7 linked regions of the Homo sapiens genome follow. The protein of the gene in region 3 interacts with the protein of the main gene of each other region in a biochemical or structural test. Each region holds a gene or a part of one and is shown on either strand. Other genes may lie near its edges.

Region 1 (3,500 bases), on a different chromosome or scaffold from region 3:
AGGCTAGGGTAGGCTGTCTCTTCAGGGTCCAGGGGGGTGGGCAGTGGTGGGGGAAAGTGCAGGTTGGTGAGGTCAGGTAGGGAGCCCCCCGTGTTCATGGCAGGTGGGAGGACAGGCACATTGGCAGGCTGGTCAGGAGATGGAAAGATGCTAGGGGAAGGAGAGAAAAAGAAAGATGTAAATAGGAGGGTGGGTGCAGTGGTCAGGGAAGAGCAGAGATCAGTCTCCTACATCTCCCTGTACTTCCTTCCCCCACCTCTCAGCCAACCTCAGGGAGTACTTACTTAATTCCAGGGACTTCACAGGACCGAGGTCGGGAAGAGGATGAGGATAGCTGAGGAGAGAAGGGAGAATATGGAAAATGAGGACAGTGCTCAGCAGAGAACCCTGGAAGGCCTGCCCCATGGCAAGGGGATAGCAGAGAGACTAGTGGGTGACACCCGGTGGCCTCCTCCTACCTTCTTAGCATCCCATGGCTTCAGCAAATGCTTGTCATCTAGCAAGTTCTCCTCAATAGCAGGTACTTGAAAGAGAAAGACTGGTGATGGGAGAGTTGGAGAAAGAGCCAGTAAGGCAGGACAGGAAGCAGAAGCAGGTGGGAAGGAGTCCTGCTCCCTGAACCTGCACACAATCCCAACACCAGCCCAGAAATTCTTTGGCATTCAGTACCCACAGCAGTGAGGAACACATACCTTTGGGGTCCATTTCACCATCCAGAATACCTGCAAGGGATACAGTGGCATTGGCTGCAGTGCTCACTTGCCTACCTGCTTTAAATAGCTCCATGGAGGCCGGGTATGGTGGCTCATGCCTGTAATCCCAGCACTTTGGGAGGCCGAGGCAGGTGGATCACGAGGTCAGGAGTTCAAGACCAGCCTGGCCAAGATGGTGAAACCCCATCTCTACTAAAAACACAAAAAATTAGCCAGGCACAGTGGCAGATGCCTGTAATCCCAGCTACTCAGGAGGCTGAGGCAGGAGAATCGCTTGAACTCGGAGGGCGGAGGTTGCAGTGAGCCGAGATCACGCCACTGCACTCCAGCCTAGGCGACAGAGTGAGACTCCGTCTCAAAAAAGAAAGAAATAATAAATAAATAAATAAATAAATAAATAGCTCCATGGTTACTCCCAACCCTGGGACAGGGCCACTTACCCCCACGTCGGCTGGGCAGGATGCTGGGAGGTGTGGGGCCTGGGTAGGTATCCTGGGGACTGGGGTTCATCACACTTGTATGAAGGGCAGAGTCAGAGCTTGTCCTATGGGGGGAGCAGGAATGAGCTGACACCAGTGACAGTCTTCCTGGTCCCTAAGCCCTGCCCAGCAAGGGAAAACACTAGCTGGTCTGGAACAGGGTGGGGGTGAGGGAGCAGGGCCCCAGAAACTACAGATAAGAGATCTGGCCTAAAGAAGGCAAAAGCCATCACCTGTTAAGTGCAGATGGTAGTCGAAACAACTGCCCCTTCTCTGCAGGGAAATTGCCCCAGGCCATCGTCCTGGGGTAGAAAAACAAAGTCATGAGGAGGAAGGCTGGCAGTGGACAAGAAGGTGGGCATAGGGGTTGGAAAATGTGGGGCAGCTAAGGTGGAAGTAAAGATGGCTGAGCACCCAGATCATCCCCTTTTCTTTCTGGTTCTTCTCCTGCCTATGATTGACCCCTCCCCCAGTCAATCTAAGAGAGCTGGAAACTTCTCTCTGCCAGGACCAGCTGAATGGGAATCTTGGAGCCCAGCAGCATTCCTGGGTATGAGCATTGAAAGTGAGATGGACAAGGGGAGAGTTTAAGAAATCTAAAAGTGCCAGAACACTACATCTTGCACCCACCCTTGACAGAAGGTTGCCATTTTCACCTGCCCCTCTGCCATTCTCCCCTCCCCCTTACACACACACCCCAGCCTGGCTATGGTTCCCATTGGTTCTGCTCTGGCTGGACTGGGAGGCTTGACCACTAGTGTCAACATGGCCAAGGCTGGACTCTGACCCACCTACTCCAACTGTCTCCACCTCTCTCAGCCCTGGCGTTATAGGAAGAGGTACTGTTGAAACCTTAGCCCAGTAATCCCAGCCCCAACCCAGAAGGGGCAACTCCTTCCAGAAACACGTCAGAGAGTAGGCAGGAGCTTCTGCCCGCCCTGGACACTTACCTTCGCCAGCTAGACTCTGGGGGAGGAGATAAGTAGGCAGGACTATAGGGAGAGCTGTCAATGTGAACAGCACCAGTTAAGGAAAAAAGTAGAGAGGACAGATGAGAGAGGCCAAATGAGGAAAGAACAATGAAGGCAGCAGATAAGTTGTTTCAAGAAACTCATACCTTTCTCCTCTTCTATAAGGGACAACAATAGGATCAAAGAATGGAAGAGAAAAAGGGAATCAGGTCTAAAGGGGCTGAAAAAATCCAGGAGAATGTTCAGGCAGGGCTTGGAGGAGACAGTTATGCAGGTCTCTGAGACTGAAAACTTAGAAATCTGAGAAGAGACCCAATCTCCTTTAGCAGGAGACAAGGAAGGCTTGCCTCTGGCAGCAAGCTGATGTGAAGACAGCCAGAGCCAGCCAGAGACAGGGGGCACAGCCTCAGGAGCAAAACTCCTTGTCACAGGAGCAGGTGCTGACGCAGGGGCTATGGTCGCTTTTCAGGGAAGCTGGGTAAAGAAGAGCTCCAAGAGAAGGAAGGGACGCACAACACTTCAAGTGCTTCCTATGAGTCCCTGAGGAACCCCATCCCACTACCTTTCAGACACTCCCAAGTCCCCTGTGAAGGATATGTGGCGGGTGTATCGGCGAAGTGGGGACACCATTCTTCGAGGATCTCGCTGCACCCGTTCCACCAGCCCATGGTGCCGAGTGCTCCGAGATGAATCCAAAGGTGAGTGGAGGGGGCTCTGCCAAAAAGGACAGAAGTCAGCAGAGGAAGCAGCCTAAGAAACTCCACTCCTCCCTGGCTGGGGTCTACTCACCTGGAACTCGGCCAGGCCAGAGCCAATCTGGTTAACATTGGGCAGAGACCCACCATAATGAGAGCTCCTTGTGTATGCCAGTCGCAGTTTTTGGGCCTGTAACTGAGACATGGGGAACAAGTGGGAATGTCAGGAGGGTCCTGAGCACTATTTCCTTCAGCCATCCTTGCCATCTCTGTCACCAGGATATGCTGCTGCCGCCACTGCTTTTAAAATATCTAGGCCAGGCACAGTAGCTCACACCTGTAATCCCAGCACTTTGGGAGGCCGAGGCAGGCGGATCACAAGGTCAGGAGATCGACACCATCCTGGCTAACACCGTGAAACCCTGTCTCTACTAAAAATACAAAAAATTAGCCGGGCGTGGTGGCGGGCGCCTGTAGTCCCAGTTACTCGGGAGGCTGAGGCAGGAGAATGGCGTGAACCTGGGAGGTGGAGGTTGCAGTAAGCCGAGACTGTGCCACTGCACTGCAGCCTGGGCAACAGAGAGAGACTCTGTCTCAAAAAAAAAAAAAAAAAAAAAGGATCACTTCAGCCCAGGAAGTAGA
Region 2 (3,500 bases), on a different chromosome or scaffold from region 3:
GAGGCTCTGGGAAAGGCATCTCTGGTCCTCTTCAAAGGCTGTTAAGCCCCCGTCCTCCATGGGAAGAAGGGAGGCCAACTGCCAAGCTTCCAACTCTAACAACTAGAAAACAACATGAAGCTGATTAACATCTGCAATGCAAAAACACAAAGACAGTTTAACCAACTAATTTATAATGCTGAGTTCAGCTCGGCCCCAAAAGACATACACCACCAACCGCCATCCTGGGTCAGAACCCGCAATGGGAGAATGGTCCACCCAAAGTGGTGCTAAAAGAAGCTCTTTCCGGGCCAGGCACGGTGGCGCACGCCTGTCATCCCAGCACTTTGGGAGGCTGAGGAGGGCGGATCACGAGGTCAGGAGATCGAGGAGATCGAGACCATCCTGACTAACACTGTGAAACTCCGTCTCCACTAAAAATACAAAAAATTAGCCGGGCATGGTGGCGGGTGCCTGTAGTCCCAGCTACTCGGGAGGCTGAGGCAGAAGAATGGTGTGAACCCGGGAGGCAGAGCTTGCAGTGAGCCGAGATCACACCACTGCACTCCAGCCTGGGCGATAGAGAGAGACTCCATGTCAAAAAAAAAGAAAAAAAAAAAGAAGCTCTTTCCAAGAAAAATACATAGGAAGATATGGGAAAGAGGGAAGGAGAGAGAGAGGAAAACAAAGAACAGGGTGGGAAGGAGCCATGAGGGAAGGCAGGGACTGCAGGTACACACCAACTGAAAATACTCCCAGGTCATGATGAACCCATCAGCACGTGGGGGCTGCACAGCTCCCATGGTCTCAGCTTTCCCCTAAACAGTGAGTCCTGACCATCCGACCAGCTGTGCACAGAATCACCTGGGTGCTGCCAACAAGTGAGGTCGCGGGGGCCATGGCCAAGAGGCCATGTCTCCTAGAGACAGGCCTGGCACCAGAGATTTGTATTTTTAGCTTTTCTCTTATACATGATTCAAATGCTGATACAGGGTGGAAATACAGGAAAATCTCACATACTCTTCCGAGTTCCCTCTCATGGTGACATCTTACAGGAGAGTGTCACAGCCAGGAAACTGACTTGATACCATCCATCAGCCTCGTCCAGATTTCAAGGCATTTACCTGCAGGTGTGTGTGTGTGTGGGTGTGCGTGTGTGTCCGTGCGTGTGTGTGCGTGTGCACATGTGTACATGAGCGTGTGTGTGTGCGCGCATGTGAGCACGTGTTCCATGCAGTCTTGTCACATGTATACATTCATGTGACCACCCTGCAGAGTGGAGATACTTAAGAGTTCCATCCTGCATATTGGCAAGCACTTGAAACACAAGTACACATTTACCAATACCCTGTCCTCATGGCCAAACTCAACAAAAAGAGCCCTTAAAGCAAGAAGATTTCCTCTACTGGCAGGAAGCCCCCACCTGGTCATCCAGGCTTTAGATAAACAGCAAGAGGAGGCTGTGGCCAATACCAGAACCATGGCTGGAGTTTCCCCCACGAAATGAGGAGACCCTGGGGCCAAGGCAAGCCCAACCACACCCCATATACCCTCTTCTGGACCACCTTCTGGGTATCCAGAACCCCAGAGTTCCCAGCCAAAGGGTCTGGTGCCCACTTCTAAGACACACACAGGCCTCTTTCCACCCAGGTCCTCCCACACTGGCACACCTATAGCCGTGAACTGGCTGAGGAGCAGCCTTCCAGGAATAGCGAGCTTGGACAAGCTAGCAGGATGCCCACACGAGGCCCTTCCAAGACAAGGCAGGCCTGGGGTGAAGAGGAAAGGGGAGGTGGCCCTCCCAACACCACCTCTTCCAATATGGAACTCCAAGGAGTCCCCCCTCCTTGCCTTATCCTAGCATCTGGTGGCTACTGGCCATACTGGCCATCTTTGGTGTTCTTGACCTGCAGCTGCGTCACTCCAGTCTCCGCCTTCGCCATCACAGAGCTTCTCCCTGTTTGTTTGTTTCTTTTTTTTGAGACAGAGTCTCGCTGTGTCGCCCAGGGTGGAGTGCAGTGGCGCGACTTCGGCTCACTGCAACCTCCGCCTCCCGGGTTCACGCCATTCTCCTGCCTCAGCCTCCCGAGTAGCTGGGACTACAGGCAGCCGCCACCACGCCTGGCTAATTTTTGGTATTTTTAGTAGAGTCAGGGTTTCACCGTGTTAGCCAAGATGGTCTCGATCTCCTGACCTCGTGATCCACCTGCTGCGGCCTCCCAAACTGCTGGGATTACAGGCGTGAGCCACCGCGCCCGGCCGACTTCTCCCTGTTTGTATGTATCTTCACATGGCCATCTTTTTTTTTAACTAGGAGATGAGGTCTCACTATGGTGCCCAGGGCATAAAAGATCTGATCTGTGGAAGTCAAAACACTAAACTTTTTAGCCAGGCAGGTCTCGTGGCCTGCACCTATAGTCCGAGCCACTCTAGAAGCTAAGGCAGGATAATTGCTTGAGCCCAGGGAGATGGAGGCCAGCCTAGGCAACAAAGCGAGACCTGTCAAACCAAATAAAATATAAAATAAAATCACTAAGTTTTTAGGAGAAAAGAGGCTATCTGTAAGACTTTGGGGTAGGGAAAGTTTTCTTAAACAAGGCACAAAAAACTCTAGCTATAAAATAAGATTAATAAGTTTAACGTTAAAATTGAGAACACATCACACCTGTAATCCCAGCACTTTGGGAGGCCGAGGCAAGCAGATCACGAGGTCAAGAGATCAAGACCATCCTGACCAATGTGGTGAAACCCCATCTCTACTAAAAAAAAAAAAATTAGCTGAGCATGGTGGCACACACCTGTATTCCCAGCTACTCTGGAGGCAGAGGCAGGAGAATCGCTTGAACCTGGGAGGTGGAGGTTGTAATGAGCCGAGATGACACCACTGCCCTCCAGCCTGGCGACACAACCTGGCAGGTGGAGGTTGCAATGAGCTGAGATCACGCCACTGCACTCCAGCCTGGCGACACAGCGAGACTCCGTCCCCCCCAAAAAAAAGAAAAAAAAAAATGAGAACACAGCTTCACAAAGAATACCATAAAGAAAACGAAAGAACAAGCCACAATTTGGGAGAAGATATTTGCCACATACATAACCAACAGAAAATTAATATCCAGAATAGCTTTAAAAGATCAACTATTTAAAATTTAAACATTTTTAAAAGACACATGGCCCAATAAAAAATGTCAAGAAATAGGAACAAGCGTTTTACAGGAGAGGAAATCCTAATCATGATGATGTTATACCTACTAAGTCAGCAGAAATGAAGAATCTAGTAATACCCAATGTCAAAAAGGATTTGGATCAACAGGAACTCTTAATACATTAATATAATCTCTTTAGAAAACAATTCAAGTGAAACATTTGTCTATATGGATACAGCACTTTTCACTTAGATTTATATTTCAGAGAAATTTTTGCAAACAGATAAGAAGACACCAGAATGTTCGGGACAATATGGTTCTCAATGGCAAAGAGACAGGCAGAAAAAAGGGAGGGAAGAAAGGGAGGGAGTGCGGGAG
Region 3 (3,500 bases):
CATTTTTTTAGTCTGCTGTTATTTGCCTCACAGATATAATAACCTAGTCTGAGGATGGCATTTTAAAAAAAGTCTTCCTCTGTTCCGTCTTGTTCTGTACCTTCTGTGCTCTCTGCATTCATTTTATTCATTTTTGTCTTTGATGCATGGCCCTTCTTCAGATATTTGGTGATTCTTGGCTGTCCACTAAATATTTAAGAATAGGGTATTAAATGCCAGGCTCATGTGGGTAGGACTTACTGATTGCTGGGTTTTCTCATAGCTTGAATAGGTAGGGACTTGTCTGTTTTATTACTGTATACCAAATGCTAATAATAACAAATATGTTTTCTTGGATCAGATATTTGCTCCAGAAGAAACCTTCCCATTTCCTTAAAGGCCTTAGCTTAGCTGCCAGTGCTCCAGGAGCTGAGTGGAGAAAAGAGATGCAAGTCTCACTAGTTAGTATGTTGACTTTGTCTTAGCCCCCATGTTTTCCTTAGGATGCCTTATCCCTGCCTTGGTGTCCTTGAGAGCAGAGCTGGTTCAGCCTTACTAGAGTAAATTATAGGTCTTATTCCCCAATATGGGTGAGTTTAAAAGCTTCTTACTTCAAGCACTTGTCCTGTTTTCAGCTCATCTCTCACTTCTACCTTGAGCAGTTCCCTGTGTTTCCAATTTCTAAGGCTTCCCAGGCTTTGTATGCAGATGTTTATTTTTTACTGGTTTCTACCCCTATAGGCTTAGGTTTTAGCTTTCTCTTGTAGGCTTAGTCTTTATTACTGTTTATCTATTGTCATCCTTGGTGACTCCTCTTGATTACTGCTGTCTCTTTTGTTCTTTTTGTCTTTATATGCCTGTTTTATTGCTGATGTCATTTTAGTGATGTTTCAAGAGTTGGAGACAAAAGATTTAATCTGTTACATTTAATTGGAAATGTATTTTGACTTTTCTAACCTTCCTTTATAGACATCCCTTTCTCCATCCTTTGTAATTGTACTTGTTACTAATACAGTATAATTTTCATTTTTGTAGCCTGTCTATTTTACTTTTTATATTTTGTTTAATCAAGTTTTCTCCTATTTTTTCATATTTGAACAGATACTCTTTTTTTTCCCCATGAACCTACAAATCTAGAAATAAAAGTATTAGAATGCTAAAGGATTAGTATTTTTCTAGAGGAATGGTATCTTATAATAGTTTCTTGTTTCAAAATAAATTACTGATTTGTATTTTCTCCCATATTATCCATGCCCTTTAAGGTGTAAGTCTGGTTTTAGAATGCTAATTTGTGACCTGTGTTAGAGAATTGCATATTGGAGTCCTTCGCCTAGAGGATTAATAGCTTATTTATTAAATATGACTTCTTGGGAGCAGGCATGTCCAAGTAATGGCTGTCACTTATGTTGAAAAAAGTGGTAATAATATATGGATACATAGAGAAGTTTAAAAAAAATACTTCAGGCTGCATGCAGTGGCACATGTCTGTAATCTCAGCACTTTGGGATGCTGAAGCGGTAGATTGCCTGAGCTCAGGAGTTCGAGACCAGCCTGGGCAACATGGCAAAGTCCTGTCTCTATCAGAAATACAAAAATTAGTGGGCGTGGTGGCATGTGCCTGTGGTCCCAACTACTTAGGAGGCTGGGGTGGGAGGATTGCGGGACCCCAGGGAAGCCGAGGCTGCAGTGAGCCGTGATGGCATCACTGCACTCCAGCCTGGATGACAGAACGAGACTGGATCTCAAAATATAGATAAATTTAAAACCCCGCCCCCCCAAAAAAACACAAAAAACAAAAATGAAAAGGTAGTTGCTATGTAAGATTTTTTTTTTAGCAAGCATATTAAAGATAAAATGCTATGATATTTTATTAAATGAATTAAGGTGTTTGTTGTTAAAATGTCTTCTATTTTAGGACATATAGCAACATAGTTGCTTGCTGGTTTATGAATAGTGCTTAAATATTACTTCCTCATGGTCTAAAATAGTGTCCCTCACCCCACTATCACTCACTGCACCTATATTTTGCTTTATTTTTCTTCAAAACAGTATCACTCCTTCTGACTATATTTATTAGTCTATTTTCATCAACTAGATTAGCCTTTGTTTTATTCATTGCTGTGTAATGAGTGTCTAAAGCAATGTGTAGCACGTTGAAGGTATTCAGTAATTTGTTAAAAGAATGAAAGAGTAAACATTTGCCGCTTATAAAAGGAAATATGCCAAATTTCAAGTAGATATTGAAATTATTTGAAATAACTCATGAGATATAGAGGAAGGCAAGCTGTTACAATGTAGTCATATGCAAATGATAATATTAGAAACTTGAGTTACTGATTTGGGTTCCAAGACCATCTTAGCATTTCTGTTTTGTGCTGCAGGTATCTCCTCCTCATGTCAAAAGTATCTCATAAGTGAAGTTCATTGGGAAGATTTTCATGTATTTTGACAATTTTATAGGTTGGAGAATTATAGATAGGACAATTTACTTTGAAAGACACACCTTTAAAAAGCCTCTCTAACTTTTCTTAGCTGGATGAAAAAGAAAGTCGGCGTCTGTTCCAACAGATCCTTTCTGGTGTGGATTATTGTCACAGGCATATGGTGGTCCATAGAGATTTGAAACCTGAAAATGTCCTGCTTGATGCACACATGAATGCAAAGATAGCTGATTTTGGTAAGGATAATTTTATAGTTTCTTAACGTTCATTTCTAATGTTCTTATAGTTTCAATGAACCTACCTAGAATTCTTCAGATAACTGTAAAAGATTACATAAAGTAATAGACTGAGTATATCAAAGTATTCTGTTTTGTCTATGAAGATACAAAAAGAAGAAAAGCTAAGAAATCATCTTTTCTTAGCTTTAAATGTCTTTATTACTATTATTTTATAGAGGCAGGGTTTCGCTTTGTCGCCCAGGCTGGAGGGCAGCGACGTGATCATAGCTCACTGCATCCCCAAACTACTGGGCCAGGTGACCCTCCTGCCTCAGCCTCCTGAGTAGCTGGGACTGCAGGCGTGCACTACCATGCCAGGCTGTTTTGTCTTTTTGTAGAGACAAGTTCTCACTATGTTGTCCAGGCTGCTCTTGAACTCCTGGCCTCAAGTGATCTTCCTACCACAGCTTCCCAAAGTATTGGGATTACAGGTGTGCACCACTGCACCTGGCTCTTTAAATATCTTTAAAATTAAATTTTAAACAACTTAAGTTGGTAGTATTAGAGAGACTATTTGAAAAGAGTATTATTTGTGAAAGAGAAGGTAGCAGCTTTATTTCCAGTATGTTCAAAAGAATCAAGTATGGAGAAGAAGGAAAGTGAGTGGGATGGAATTATTTAAAACCTTAAAAACCAGAAGTGAACTATGTGAATTTAATTATTTAAAATTATTTAAAACAATTTTTTAATTAAAAAAATTTATTTAAAAATTTAAAAATGTTTTAAATGATAGTAAATTATAATTTGTTTAAAGAACATTTTGATTGTTAAAAATGAATTTATTTTGGCTGGGCGTGGTGGC
Region 4 (3,500 bases), on a different chromosome or scaffold from region 3:
GTCTCCAGCCAGGAAGGGGAAGGCAGGATACCACTGCCTGGGAAGGCGGAAGTGAGAGAGGCAGGCCAACCCATTCCTGTTTCTCTTCTACTTCTTTCTCCAAAGAAAGCCCTCACTCTCCTCGCTACAGCCCAGGGAGGTCACGAGGGGCTGGGAAGACTCCTGTGGCAAAGTGGCCCACTCCAGCCCAGGCCTGAGAAAAAAGGACCCCGAAATCCTTCTGGCTACCAGTATCTTCTGCCTTCATGAGCTGGCCTCTCTCCAGACCACCCCCCAGCATTAAGAGGCGAGAGAGGGAAAAAAAAAACAAAAAACAAGTTTTGGTTTTTTTTTGTTTTTTTTTTTTTTGGAGATGGAGTTTTGCTCTTGTCATCCAGGCTGGAGTGCAGTGGCACAATCTCGGCTCACTGCAACCTCTGCCTCCTGGGTTCAAGCAGTTTTCCTGCCTCAGCCCCGCAAGTAGCTGGGATTACAGGCACCCGCCACCACGCTCAGCTAATTTTTTTGTATTTTTAGTAGACACAAGGTTTCACCATGTTGGCCAGGCTGGTCTCAAACTCTTGACCTCAGGTGATCCGCTCGCCTCGGCCTCCCAAAGGGCTGGGATTACAGGCATGAGCCACTGCCCCTGGCCTTTTTTTTAGATGGAGTCTCACTGCAACCTCCGCCTCCTGGGTTCAAGCAATTCTCCTGCCTCAGCCTCCCAAGCAGCTGGGATTACAGGCGCCCACCACCAGGCCTAGCTAATTTTTGTATTTTTAGTAGAAACGGGGTTTCACCATGTAGGTCAGGCTGGTCTCGAACTCCTGACCTCAGGTGATCCACCCGCCTCGGCCTCCCAAAGTGCTGGGATTACAGGCATGAGTGACCACACCCAGCCGAACAATTTTTAAAGAGAAGAGAGGGAGGTGGGAGGTAGGAGGTGGCAAAGGGTGGGCTAAGAGAGGCCCCCACACCTGTTTAGATGGGTCTGGATCTCTCCAGAGAACCTAGCACTGAATGGGTGTCACCAAGGCAGGAGCAAGGCCTGCTGGAGGCCGAGGCCAAGGCCATGCCACCCACATGCCTGGAGTATGGCCTCTGGAACCCCCTGCAGGCAGGGTGGGGTGGGAGAAGGTAAAAGCTCAGCATGATGTAGCAGTCCCCACCAGCCTCTTCTCCCCCAGGCATGGTTGGGAACATTCCTCTGTGGTTTTCCCGCCAGCCATACTGACGACTCTGTGGCCACAAGGCCAGAGCCACATGTGCAGAAGTGGCCAGATGTGGCCAGAGGGTGGGGTTACACATACTCATCTTCATTCCCAACCCATGTCCTGCCCCAGCACCAGGAGAAAGGGTCCTTGGAAACTGCAGAAGGCCTTCCTGGAGGTAACTAGCCACAGCCCACGATGGTGGCAAGGAAATGGCAGCCAGCTCAGGTCTCCCCAGCCCGTGAAGTGCTCAGCAAGGCCCTGAGCTGGCCGGAGGGTTATCTGTTCTTAGTCAAGCTTGGCTTGGCCCGTGGCACTCTGATCACTCAGCCAAGCAATGGACAGCCGTCAACCTGCTGCTCCCGGCAATGCCGGGGTTGTAGGAGCCAGATTCCAGCCTGCCTGCCCAGGGAAGGGCAGAGGTCCAAGCACTCCTGGCTCCCAGCAGATAACCCTGCCTAGGGCTGGAACTGTCGCCAGCAGTACTGGCTTCCCTTGCAGGAGCCCTGCAGAGAGCACATGGGCTCAGGCAAGGGGAATCTCCCACCAGCCTGTCACTGCCACTGCAGCAGCAGAGATGTTAGGCCCGGAGCTGCAGCGGGAACCACAGCCCTATTGGTATGCAGGTGGCAGGGCAGGCAGAGGGCTCTGCCATGCAGCCTCGTTCCCATGCAAACAGGAAGCACAGGCGACTCCAGAATATTAATTTGCAGGACCTGCAGGGACTGGGTGACATGCAGCACCCCAGGGGTTTGCCAGGTAGCAACCTGCTCCACCCAAAGTGGAAGGGGCCATGGCTACTCTGCCTGAGTCAGGGAAAGGAGGGGCATGGAGCCCCATGAATAGAGTCTGCCCAGGCACAGACCCTGGAGCCTGGCGGGCCTTGCACTCTCTCAAGGATCTGTGCCCTCTGCCAGCCTGGCATGAGCAGAGCAGGTGGCAGCAGTTGCCATCAGCACCAAGCACCTGGAAGGGGAAGTGGTTGTGTCATGATAGGAAGAGGCTCTTGGCCGCCTCCTGGTGGACTAGGAAGGCTGGGGAACCTCTGGGAAAAGAAGAGGATAGACAGGCCCGGGGCGTGGTGGCCAGTTACCCAGGGCTGTCTCTTAAAAAAAAGGGAACCTGGGCCAGGCGCAGTGGCTCATGCCTGTAATCCCAGCAGTTTGGGAGGCTGAGGCGGGCGGATCACCTGAGGTCAGGAGTTCAAGACCAGCCTGGCCAACATGGCAAAACCCCATCTCTACTAAAAAATACAAAGATTAGTTGGGTGCGGTAGCGGGCACTTGTAATCCCAGCTACTCAGGAGGCTGAGGCAGGGAGAGTTGTTTGAACCCAGGAGGCAGAGGTTGCAATGAGCCCAGATCATGCCACTGCACTCTAGCCTGGGTGATAGAGCGAGACCCTATCTAAAAAAAAAAAAAAAAAGAGGGTAGACGAAGGGGCACTGTTCCCTAAGAGGACAGGCCAAGAGCTCTGGCTAGCAAAGAGCCCCACTGAAAGGCCAGGGAGAGCCAAGCGTTGGTGGCTATAATCCCAGCATTTTGGGAGTCCGAGGCGGGAGGATCACTTGAGGTCAGGAGTTCAAGACCAGCCTGGCCAACATGGAAAAACCCCATCTTTACTAAAATTACAAAATTAGCCGGGTGTGGTGATGCATGCCTGTAATCCCAGCTACTCGGGAGGCTGAGGCAGGAAAATCACTTGAACCCGGGAGGCAGAGGTTGCAGTGAGCCAAGATCGCGACATTGCACTCCAGCCTGGGCAACAAGAGTGAAACTCTGTCTCAAAAAGAAAAAAATGAAAAGAAAAGAAAGCCAGGGAAAGGTTCACAGGGGAGGACAAGGACCTGGGTCCTTCCCTCACCTGCCAGGACTTCACTCTGATGGGAATCGAGAGGCCAGTAGAGCCACCTCCTGCAGAGGTCAGAGGCAAGGCTCTGGGGGAAAGCCTTGGGCCCCCCGCACCCAGCTCTATACTTTCCTCTTTCCCAGCACTGAGAACCTTCCTTCTCCTGGGAGTGGTGGCCTCAGTAACAAGCAGCAGCACCATCCTGACCTCTGGTTTTCTGCAGGGCTGACCACCCTGCCTCCATGGGAAGTCCCAGCCTGGGTTGCTGAGTGGGTGGGGCTGTGTGTGTTTCGTTTTTTCTTTTTTTTTTTTTGAGACGGAGTCTCGCTCTGTTGCCCAGGCTGGAGTGCAGTGGCGCGATCTCGGCTCACTGCAAGCTCCGCCTTCCAGGTTCACGCCATTCTCCTGCCTCAGCCTCCTGAGTAGCTGGGACTACAGGCACCCGCCACCACGCCCAGCTAA
Region 5 (3,500 bases), on a different chromosome or scaffold from region 3:
TCTATTTCTTGGTTATGTAACGGAAGTGTCCACTTCCCTCTTTTCCAGCTTAGGAGCTTTAGTGTGCTCAGTTGAACCCCAAAGTATACATACGTGAGCCCAGCACTATCACCTCACTAGGCATCCAGCAGGTCCCTGGGTAAGGGATCTTTGAAAGATCTGGAAAGAGGGATGGGACATCTAGTTAGAGGCAGGTCTCACTCAACAGCCAGAGGGAAGGGGCAATCAGCAAGTGGGTGTGACATTTCCCCCGAATACTCAGCTATCCAGGTCCTGATGAAGCTCGGCTCTTGGGCACCCTGCAAGTGTCCTTGCTCAAGGTCTTTCTCTCAGTACACTGGGTCCAGTGGAATATCTAAGAATTATCTGGATCCAGGGATAAGATGAAGGCCTTGGATTTCATGCCTCTCTTTCCATCACCATTAAGTCTTTTGCCATTTCTAACTTTTCTTTTATCATTTTTTTCCCATAATAATCCTCAATAAGGATTTCTGCAAGGAAATTCCTAATAACCCTTTAGACAAGAACACAAGTAGAAAAAAAAAAAAAGTTGTTCTTCTCCTGCAGGGGAAGCAGGGCTCAGGCTTTAGACAGATAGTGCCAGATCTTATGAGATAATTTTCACTGATTATGGGTCATGACCACATTAGAGGATTAGTTAATTGGCTTCTCCTGTTAACATCAACAATGACAACCACCACCAAAAGGAAAAAAGCAAAAAACAAAAAAAGCTAGCTTTCATACAAAAAAATAGGGTATCTTCTACTCTGTAGCATTCAAATGAAGAATATAGGAAACAATGAAGAATTAACTGAATAATCTTTACAATGCAATGCAAAGTAAATTACAAAAATAAGTAAATCACTATAGCTACACATGAAATCCGCTTGCACTTACTGTGCATCCACGGTTTCAGTCCAATTCAGGTACATTAATTGTATTTATTCCTTACAAGATTTTTATGAGTTATTTTTAGACCCATTCTAAAGATGAGTACACCAACAGGTTAGAGTTGATAAATAACTTGGCCTAACATCATACAATTGTTACTAAATGTTATACGAAATCTTTTTTTTTTTTAATTTTTTTTTTTTTTTCAGACAGGTTCTTGCCCCATCGCCCAGGCTGGAGTGCAGTGGTGTGATCTTGGCTCATTGCAACCTCTGTCTCCTGGGTTCAAGCAATTCTTAGGCCTCAGCCTTTCAAGGTAGCTGGGATTACAGGTGTGTGCCACCACGCCCAGCTAATTTTTGTAATTTTACTAGAGACGAGGTTTCTGCCATGTTGGCTGGGCTGGTCTGGAACTTCTGGCCTCAAGCAATCCCCGCCTCAGCCATCCAAAGTGCCAGACTACAGGCGTGAGCCACTGCGCCAGCTTCTTTTTTGGTTTTTACATTTTTCCTTTTGGCTGTTGTTGTCAACATTGTTAACATGAGAAGCCAATTGCCCAGTTCCCTAATGAAGATCCACCACTGTCTTTCTAAAACTTCAGTTCTGCTTACCCTACAGGAGAGAATAAACTTTTTTTTTTTTTAAGAGATGGAGTCTCACTCTGTCACTCAGGCTGAAGTGCAGTGGTGCAGTCTCGGCTCACTGCAACCTCCGCCTCCCGGGTTCAAGCAATTCTTCTGCCTCAGCCTCCCCGGTAGCTGGGATTACAGGTGTCCACCACCACGCCTGGCTAATTTTTGTATTTTTAGTAGAATTGGCCAGGCTTGTCTAGAACTCCTGACTTCAGGTGACCCGCCTGCCTTGGCCTCCCAAAGTCCTGGGATTACAGGTGTGAACCACTGCATCCGGCCAGATAAGCGTGTTTTATGTTTTTTCTCCTTGGGTTCTTGTCTAAAGGGTTATTAAAATTTTTCTGAGTTTTTAACTTTTTCATTTCATTATTTTTTTCTATAATAAACCTCAATGATAATTTCCAAAAGGAAACTATATTGCTATTTCTCCTTCTTACCTTGCAGCATTAGATGAAACCTATAGAACACTGCTAGGTACTAATGGAATTAATGTTGATTCTGATCTTATTAAAAGAAGTCTGTTGTTTTTTAGCTTCTGTTCTTTAGCATATGTTAAAAGTCTCATACTATTTGAAATATTTGCATAGACTTTTAAACCGGAATGCCTGCTGAAATTTGTTTTTCAGAATTTATTTATATAATTACAGGAATTTTCACCTCTAATTTGTTAGCATTTGAAGTCTATTGATGGATTTTTATCATGTGGAACCATATATGCATTCATGGAATAAGTACAACTTGGTAGACTTATTTTAATATATTGCTTGATTTGGTTTGCAAATGTCCATTTCCTGGCGTTCTAGTTAATTGAAATACTTGCTTTCCCCAAAGCAGCAACACCAGTACTTTTTCTTTCAATAATAACATTGGTGTTCATATTCTAAAATATCTAGCTTTTCCTGTGCCAGACTTAAAGGTTAGTTATATTTTAATACTACATGTTTTATGCAGCTCCTTAAACCTCAAATCAGAACAACACTAGTGATAGTTGTCTCCATATGTTCTCATTAGAATTCTACCAAATATCTGGCTGGGTAGCTGCCCTCGTCAGGTGGAACATGTAACCATCAAACTGAAGCATGAATTGGGGATTACAGCTGTAATGAATTTCCAGACTGAATGGGATATTGTACAGAATTCCTCAGGCTGTAACCGCTACCCAGAGCCCATGACTCCAGACACTATGATTAAACTATATAGGGAAGAAGGCTTGGCCTACATCTGGATGCCAACACCAGATATGAGCACCGAAGGTAAGGATCAGAACTGTTCTGCCTCCTTGCTGTATTTCAGAGAAACCCTTGCTGTCTGTCTGTCTATCTATAATTTAATATCTTAAAAATGAATGGTAGAAATGGAATAAATATAAGATTTTAGATTTAATATATATAATACATATGTTTTGACACTGTGGCTAAGATTCTGTTTAATGTGGCTTCTTTGTTTATTCATTCAACACATATTTATTGTGTATGTACTGGGTATGCGGCATTATGCTAGTAGCTAGGAACACAGCAGTAAAGAAAGACAGGCACAACTTCTGCCCCCACGGAGCGCATTGTCCTATAGGGATGGCAAATGTTAATCAAATGACTAAAAATAGAAGTTTAAAACTATGATGAATTTTTTGTTAGAAAATATATAGATATTGCTATGAGATTATGTACAGGTAATCAGGCCAAGAAGTGGGGTCAAAGAGGGTTTTCTTGGAAAGTAGTGTTTGGGCTAAGATCTGAGGGTGGGCTGGAGGAAGAGTGAGTGGAGGGAGTGACCCAGGCAGAAGCAGCAGCTTAGAAGAATCCTTGTGGCAGGAGAGAGCACAGAGTGTTGCAAAAACTGAAAGACCAATGTGGCTTGGATCAGAGAACGAGGAAAGATGATCCTGCAGGATTTGAGCGACAAAAAGGACTTTAGACGCTATCCTATAGCAGGAAGAAGCAGTTGTACAGTAAGACGAGTTCGACACTAATTACAGCA
Region 6 (3,500 bases), on a different chromosome or scaffold from region 3:
CAGACTTCAGTTGATATAATCTAACATTTTTCAAAATAGAGTCACTCACTGAGTTCATGAATTGTGACATGCAATTTTTTTGTGTATGTAGGGAGATAGATGCTGAGGAAAGAGAGAAAAAAACCTTTTCAAGTGAAAGTTCTATTTAATAGCTTAAAAAATGTGTAACCACCTACCTCCTATACTTGAATAGCCACACCTCAAATCGCATGGCCCAAAATGAACTTCTCAACTACTGCCACTTCTTAGTTCCACATCTGAGGAAACAGATCTATCCTTAGTCATAAGCTCATAGAATCCTCTATTTCCCTTATCGCAGCATTTATCTGGTGAATTATCTCTCACTTTAGATTTTAAGATCCAGGAGGAAAGAGATTATGTCTTTTTTGTTCATATTTAACACATGACACTTGACGAATACATGAGACAGATGAATAACAGCCATTATACCTTGGCTTCTCCCTTGTCAACACTGATTATCTTCTATGCAGGAAAAAGTATTTTCAGAGAAGTTGGCCGGCCAACAAACTGTATCCTACCATTTTCCATCTATAGAATACATGGTTGTCTTTTATCCCTACAAAAATATCATAGTGGATTTCTAAAAAGAAAATATTGGACCCTAAAAGAAATCTACGGCTTAATCAAAACTTGATTTTCAGATTACTGTTCATCAATGACTTTAAAAAGTTTATCAACATCATTAGATACACACTCCCATTATTGAAAAATGGCACATAAGGAAGGGAACAAAAGAGAAAAAACATAGTTATGACTAAAAGCCCACACATTTTCTTTCCCTGAGCTATTTATTTATTAATCTGCTCATTCATTCAACATTCATGGATGGATGAACTTTTTCTAAAGTTTTCTCTACACAATAAGCCAAGTATAAAGTAATTCAGACACAAACGAATTTCTGGGAGCTGGGAAATCCATTGTCAATGCATTCAATGTAGTCTAGCCAAAAATATCTCTAACTTAATCTTGGAGTTTTACTACATAAAACAAGTAATACTATTTACACTTATAGAGCTACTTATTTTACTGACTGTAGCAAACCAGAAAAGATCACACTAGATGGCTGACTAGTTGAAACACCTGCTTACTGTATCAAGAAGCATTTACGCAGAAAGAGAAAATGAAGATGACAGATATGGACTAACAAAGGGTAAGCTGTGGGTTGGTCACAAAACAAAAACTGCCACTTCTAAGATTGGCCCCTTGGCAACCAAAACAGTCTTACAGGCTGTCAGAAAGGATAATACCCTACTGCTTTACAAAAAGTGAAAATTTTATTTCCTATCTACTTAACATTCTGAGGTATGATGGCATACTGCAAAGATGTTTTTCTAAAGCCTGGTAAGTTATGAGATTCTGTTTGGAAAAACAAAAACAAAAAAATATATAGCCATCCCTTATCTTTTATCATTCACATTTTCATTTCTGAATTTTGGTAATAAAGGTAAGCACACTTCATCTTTATACACACAGTACCAAATTATGATGTGATCCTACTAGTCATGATAAAGAAAAAGGTAGTACTAAGAATCCAAGACATTCAAAGTTGGTAATGAATTATATTCTTATTCTTTAAAACAGTACAATAGACAATTCTTGAATAACATATTCTTTAAAATAATTAAGCCACCTAAAGTATAACTAAAAAAAGAATGTTTACTTACATCCCTCCCTGAGGTGGTCATATTATAGATGAATACAAAACACCAGCCTAAATTTAAAGTGATTATACATGACCCATGCTTTCTCATAGTCTGCTGTATTTCCAGCTCACATTCAATTTTCTGTCATGTGTTCATCAGAAAATGAACAGGGAGACTATAAAAATTTAACAGTCATATATTGATAATCTCTTTAAATGAATGAAACAAGACCTGTTTTTAAGGAATTTATTTTCAATAAACATTGAAGTTACCATTTATAGTATAATCTCTATTGTAAACTCAGCTAGCTTGTGTTTAAGACTATCTTCTCAGACTCACTGAGAATTTCATTTGAATAAAGGATCTGTGAAATAATTTATATCAGTGGGTTGCAAAGTAGTAAACATGAATAAAATTTTAAGCCATAAGAAAAAAGTGTGTATGGCTTGTGGAACTAATTGTATTATGGCCATATCTTATGCTTTTTTAATATTAAAAAATGTAATAGCTCTTCTTGGGGAAAATTTCTAAAGGGAGCTAACATATGATAATATACTTTTCAAACTTAGTATACACTGCCACCTCAAATCCCAACTCAATCACAAGATTCACTCTCTGGATACAATGGAACAACAGTCATACCCTTCATGTACAAAGATTTTGACCCATCACAATGGCCAAGAGACTTACTTTCCGCAGTAGCAATGAAACCGCATGGATCAACAAATTATTTCTGCAAAGTCCAAGAACATGTATTAGGCTTCTGTTAATAGCTCTGAAACTCTTGGCAAATAACTGCTCTGTTTCAAATTTCCTCATCTGTTAAGATATAGGTAGTAACAGTATCTAGCTCATAGGGCTGCTATGAAGATTTAATGAGATAATAATTGAAAATCTATTGTAATAGTCCCTGGCACATAAGAGCTCAATAATGTTAGTTATCATTGTTAGTTGCTAACGTCAAGGCTAGGAAAACATAAGAGGAACACAAAGTATCAAGAGGTCTCATTAGCATTGTTCTCTAACAAATGGATCTAAGCCGGCACTGACTGACTATATGAAATTATCCATTTAAAAAGCCAATAAATTTTACTATGTATTTTCTTTTTTCTTCTTCTTTTTTTTTAGACGATGTCTTGCTCTGTTGCCAGGCTAGAATGCAGTGATGCAATCTTGGCTCACTGCAACCTGTGCCTCCCGGGTTCAAGCAATTCCCCTGCTCAGCCTCCTGGGTAGCTGGGACTACAGGCGGGTGGCCACCATGCCCGTGCCACCACGCCTGGCTAATTTTTTGTATTTTAGTAGAGACAAAGTTTCACCATGTTGGCCAGGATGGTCTCCATCTCCTGACCTTGTGATTCACCTGCCTCAGCCTCCCAAAGTGCTGGGATTACAGGCATAAGCCACCACACCTGGCTGGTATTTTCTAAACACTGAAAATAGTCTAGCATTTTGATAAGCTTGAAAGTCTAGCTTAGAGGTTTATTTGAACACAGAGTATGCATATTATTAGATACTTGTTGGGTTCAAATTAAATCAGCTGATAGTTATCTCTCTTCTTTAACACATCATCTAATTCCTGTGATTCCACAATTCCTCTCTGGTTAAAAGGACACAAAGTTCATGATAATATTTGCAAATGTAAAATACTCTGAAAAGAGATATGTGATTATAAATGTCCTGTTAACCCTCAAAGCCAAAATGTAGGAAGTTAAAATGAAGCTTGTAGGTCCAGGATCAGTCAACCTAGTCTTCTACATCAATATAAGAACACTGCCACACTTCAGATTTGTATAATCTTCACACTTAAATATCCAGGTTCAGAAAAAATAACAT
Region 7 (3,500 bases), on a different chromosome or scaffold from region 3:
ACCTGGGACACAGGCACGCACCACCACACCCAGTCAATTTTTTTATCTTTTTTGTAGATATGTGGTCTCCTTATGTTACCCATGCTGCTTTAAAAAAAAAAAATTTTTTTTAACAGAGATAGGGTCTTTGCTGTGTGGTCCAAACTGGTCCACATAACTCCTGGCTTCAAGCAATCCTCCCACCTCAGCTTCCCAAAGTCCTGGGATTACAGGTGTGAGCCACTGTGCCCACCTGCATTTTTCAGACTCAGTTCATCATCTGTTTTAGTCTACTACTGTTTTATATTCATTCTTGTTTGTATTTCCTGTTTCCTTCCACTTTCATACATACTGAGTTAATTTTTTTTTAAGTCCCATAAAATCATACTGACTTCCTCCTATTCTTACTGGGATTATCTGTAATTATATGACCAGATTTTCCTTGTCAGAACCTCACAGAACTTGGCTGGGCGCGGTGGCTCACACCTGGAATCCCAGCACTTTGGGAGGCCAAGGCGGGTGGATCACCTGAGGTCAGGAGTCCAAGACCAGCCTGGCCAACATGGTGAAACCTCGTCTCTACTAAAAGAAAAAAAAAAAAAAAAAAATTAGCCGAGCATGGTGGCTCACGCCTGTAGTCCCAGCTACTTGGGGAGGCTGAGGCCCGAGAATTGCTTGAACCCAGGAGGCAGAAGTTGCAGTGAGCCGAGATCACACCACTGCACTCCAGCCTGGGCAACAGAATGAAACTCGGTCTCAAAAAAAAAAAAGGCCAGGCACAGTGGCTCATGCCTATAATCACAACACTTTGAAAGGCTGAGGTGGGTGGATCATTTGAGGTCAGGAGCCCAAGATCAGCCTGGACAACATGATGAAACTCCGCCTCTACTAAAAATACAGAAATTAACCGGGGGTGGTGGTGGGCGCCTGTAGTTCCAGCCACTTGGGAGCCTGAGGCAGGACCTCACAGAACTCAACAGATTCCTTTTAGAAGTTTTAGGCTATGAAATCCTGAGCCAAGGCATCATGTCTGATGATGCTCAACACTACTAACACTACTTGCAATCACAATTACACATCAGACATTGTTTTATTTGGTAATCCCCAAGTGATTTTTGTTGGCCAGGGATCCTATCTTAAATTTTTGAGTAGAATACTTAGCACAATGCTATGCATTTATTAAATGCATAAAAAAACTGAACATTAATGGAACAGACATATTTTCTGTTCTCAGGAGCAAACAATACAAACATATCATTAATAGCAAAGACAGCTAAATATATGTAGGCCTCAACACTTCCTTAGAGTTCCCATTGTGTATACCTATACTCATCAAACTTTCTTAGAAAACAATAAGTAACATGGAAATGTTTTTGAAAGTTCTTATAATTCATCTATTAAATTCCAATAGCTTTAGCAGTACACTTCTAAACTTCTCAGGTCACAAGGCAGGAAGGGCAAGAAATAAGGGGAGAATACATATAAAATAGGAATTTCAAGCAAAACAGTAACATTTTTGGATGAAAATTACTTAAGTATTGACTATATACCACACACTGTTCTTAATTCATGCCACTGGAGGAAAGTAGAAATTTGGATATTTCAACAACAAAAAAATCTTTTTTTGAGACAGGGTCTTGCTCTGTCACCCAGGCTAGAGCACGGCAGTGTGACCATAGCTCACTACAGCCTCAACCTCCTCGGCTCAAGCAATCCTCCCACCTCAGCCTCCAGAGTAGCTGGGACTACAGGCACATAACACCACACCCAGCTAATTTTTCTATTTTTTGTAGAGACAGGGTCTCATTATGTTGCCAGAGCTGGTCTCAAATTCCTGGGCTCAAGGGATCCTCCTACCTCAGCCTACCAAAGTGCTGGGATTACAGGCATGAGCCATCACGCCTGGCTAACAACAAAAAAAATTTTCACATCACTTCAGTTGGCTTTATAATTCAGAAAAATTACCTTATTATATTTTGCATGGAGTAATTATCAAAACTGTTTTGGAACCCCCCAAGCTCAAATTAACTGACAGACAAGTGGAATCCTTATGTATGTTAAATAGGAAGGAAGTCAGCCTAAGATGAAAAGACACCACCCACCAATGATAATTCATTTAAGTAGACAGTTATAGGAAAGCAATAACCATGATGTCATGTGGCTATATGGGCTCTGAAGTAAGACTACATGAGCTCAAATCCTAGGTCTACCAGTTATTAGTTGAATGAGCTTTGTTAAGTTATTTAACTTTTCTGTGCTCAGTATCCTCATGTGTAAAATGGTAACAAAACCTACTTCAAGTTGTTTCGAGGATTCAATTAAGTTAAACCATGTATGTGTTTAGAAGAGTAACCACTTGGCCAGGTGCAGTGGCTCACACCTGTAATCCCATCATTTTGGGAGGCCAAGGCAGGTAGATCACCTGAGGTCAGGAGTTCAAGACCAGCCTGACCAACATGGTGAAACCTCGCCTCTACTAAAAAAAAAAATACAAAATTAGCCGGGCATAGTGGCGCATGCTGGCAATCCCAGCTACTCGGGAGGCTGAGATAGTAGAATCGCTTGAACCTGGGAGGCAGAGGTTGCAGTGAGCCGAGATCGCACCATTTGCACTCCAGCCTGGGCAACAAGAGCAAAACTCTGTCTCAAAAATAATAATAATTAAAAAAAAAAAAGTTCATAGCACTCAAAAACCATTATGGATGGTTCTTTTTATAGCTACTTAATGATGTTTTAAGTAAGATATAAGGCCCATGTAAACACATCCTCACAATTTCATACATCTTTATTCAGCTCTATAGACTGAGCCTAATAATTAATAAGTTAGTTATCTTTAATTGAAAAAAATCACTGGCCGGGCACAATGGCTCACACCTGGAATCCCAGCACTTTCGGAGGCCGAGGTGGGTGGACCATGAGGTCAGGAGTTCAAGACCAGCCTGATCAACACAGTGAAACCTCGTCTCTATTAAAAATACAAAAATTAGCCAGGCTTGGTGGCGCGTGCCTGTAATTCCAGCTATTCCGGAGGCTGAGGAAGGAGAATCGCTTGAACCCAGGAGGCGGAGGTTGCAGTGAGCCAAGATCGCACCACTGCACTCCAACCCGGGTGACACAGCAAGACCCCGTCTCAAAAAAAAAAAAAGAAAAAGAAAAAAAAAATCTTTAGTTCTCAAGTTGAAGAAGTTGTGCTAACTAACCCCCATCATTCTCTTGAACAACATAATTTTAGGGAAAATAATTCATGAGGTCACTTACCAGATCTTAATCCAATCTAATCAAATAAGCTCTAAATTCACTTTAAACTTGACAAAAATCACCCATTTAAGTTTAAACAGACTTCTCTCTAAATACTATTACCACTTTACTGGTAAAAGGTCCTTCCTGATCAAAAGGACTCCCTTCTCATTCCAAGGACACACCCATCATCAGAATATTATGTCAAATCTAATCAGTCAATGGTTCAATTACAACTAGAATGTTTGAGCAATGATGTGCACAAAGTCCTAGGTATGAATGCA

Evidence for each region.
Region 1: of the proteins of PRKAA1 (region 3) and CRTC2, one has a biochemical effect on the other in vitro, tested with the Homo sapiens proteins (one study listed by BioGRID).
Region 2: of the proteins of PRKAA1 (region 3) and PASK, one has a biochemical effect on the other in vitro, tested with the Homo sapiens proteins (one study listed by BioGRID).
Region 4: of the proteins of PRKAA1 (region 3) and HDAC5, one has a biochemical effect on the other in vitro, tested with the Homo sapiens proteins (one study listed by BioGRID).
Region 5: of the proteins of PRKAA1 (region 3) and EPM2A, one has a biochemical effect on the other in vitro, tested with the Homo sapiens proteins (one study listed by BioGRID).
Region 6: of the proteins of PRKAA1 (region 3) and PPM1A, one has a biochemical effect on the other in vitro, tested with the Homo sapiens proteins (one study listed by BioGRID).
Region 7: of the proteins of PRKAA1 (region 3) and PSMD11, one has a biochemical effect on the other in vitro, tested with the Homo sapiens proteins (one study listed by BioGRID).

What each region holds. Positions count from the first base shown.
Region 1 is NC_000001.11:153,952,113-153,955,612, forward strand, and holds part of CRTC2 (CREB-regulated transcription coactivator 2), read right to left. Parts: intron 3,055-3,500; coding exon 2,953-3,054; intron 2,878-2,952; coding exon 2,761-2,877; intron 2,205-2,760; coding exon 2,143-2,204; intron 1,495-2,142; coding exon 1,426-1,494; intron 1,258-1,425; coding exon 1,154-1,257; intron 861-1,153; exon of another isoform or gene 787-860; coding exon of another isoform or gene 768-786; intron 723-767; coding exon 693-722; intron 539-692; coding exon of another isoform or gene 524-538; coding exon 459-523; intron 335-458; coding exon 285-334; intron 151-284; coding exon 1-150. UniProt on the Homo sapiens protein: Transcriptional coactivator for CREB1 which activates transcription through both consensus and variant cAMP response element (CRE) sites.
Region 2 is NC_000002.12:241,142,973-241,146,472, forward strand, and holds part of PASK (PAS domain-containing serine/threonine-protein kinase), read right to left. Parts: intron 103-3,500; coding exon of another isoform or gene 61-102; coding exon 1-60. UniProt on the Homo sapiens protein: Serine/threonine-protein kinase involved in energy homeostasis and protein translation. Phosphorylates EEF1A1, GYS1, PDX1 and RPS6.
Region 3 is NC_000005.10:40,770,875-40,774,374, reverse strand, and holds part of PRKAA1 (5'-AMP-activated protein kinase catalytic subunit alpha-1), read left to right. Parts: intron 1-2,511; coding exon 2,512-2,656; intron 2,657-3,500. UniProt on the Homo sapiens protein: Catalytic subunit of AMP-activated protein kinase (AMPK), an energy sensor protein kinase that plays a key role in regulating cellular energy metabolism.
Region 4 is NC_000017.11:44,096,142-44,099,641, forward strand, and holds part of HDAC5 (histone deacetylase 5), read right to left. Parts: intron 1-3,500. UniProt on the Homo sapiens protein: Responsible for the deacetylation of lysine residues on the N-terminal part of the core histones (H2A, H2B, H3 and H4).
Region 5 is NC_000006.12:145,634,521-145,638,020, reverse strand, and holds part of EPM2A (laforin), read left to right. Parts: intron 1-2,534; coding exon 2,535-2,776; coding exon of another isoform or gene 2,777-2,862; exon of another isoform or gene 2,863-2,941; intron 2,942-3,500. UniProt on the Homo sapiens protein: Plays an important role in preventing glycogen hyperphosphorylation and the formation of insoluble aggregates, via its activity as glycogen phosphatase, and by promoting the ubiquitination of proteins involved in glycogen metabolism via its interaction with the E3 ubiquitin ligase NHLRC1/malin.
Region 6 is NC_000014.9:60,255,721-60,259,220, reverse strand, and holds part of PPM1A (protein phosphatase 1A), read right to left. Parts: intron 2,398-3,500; exon of another isoform or gene 2,355-2,397; intron 258-2,354; exon of another isoform or gene 1-257. UniProt on the Homo sapiens protein: Enzyme with a broad specificity. Negatively regulates TGF-beta signaling through dephosphorylating SMAD2 and SMAD3, resulting in their dissociation from SMAD4, nuclear export of the SMADs and termination of the TGF-beta-mediated signaling.
Region 7 is NC_000017.11:32,447,510-32,451,009, reverse strand, and holds part of PSMD11 (26S proteasome non-ATPase regulatory subunit 11), read right to left. Parts: intron 1-3,500. UniProt on the Homo sapiens protein: Component of the 26S proteasome, a multiprotein complex involved in the ATP-dependent degradation of ubiquitinated proteins.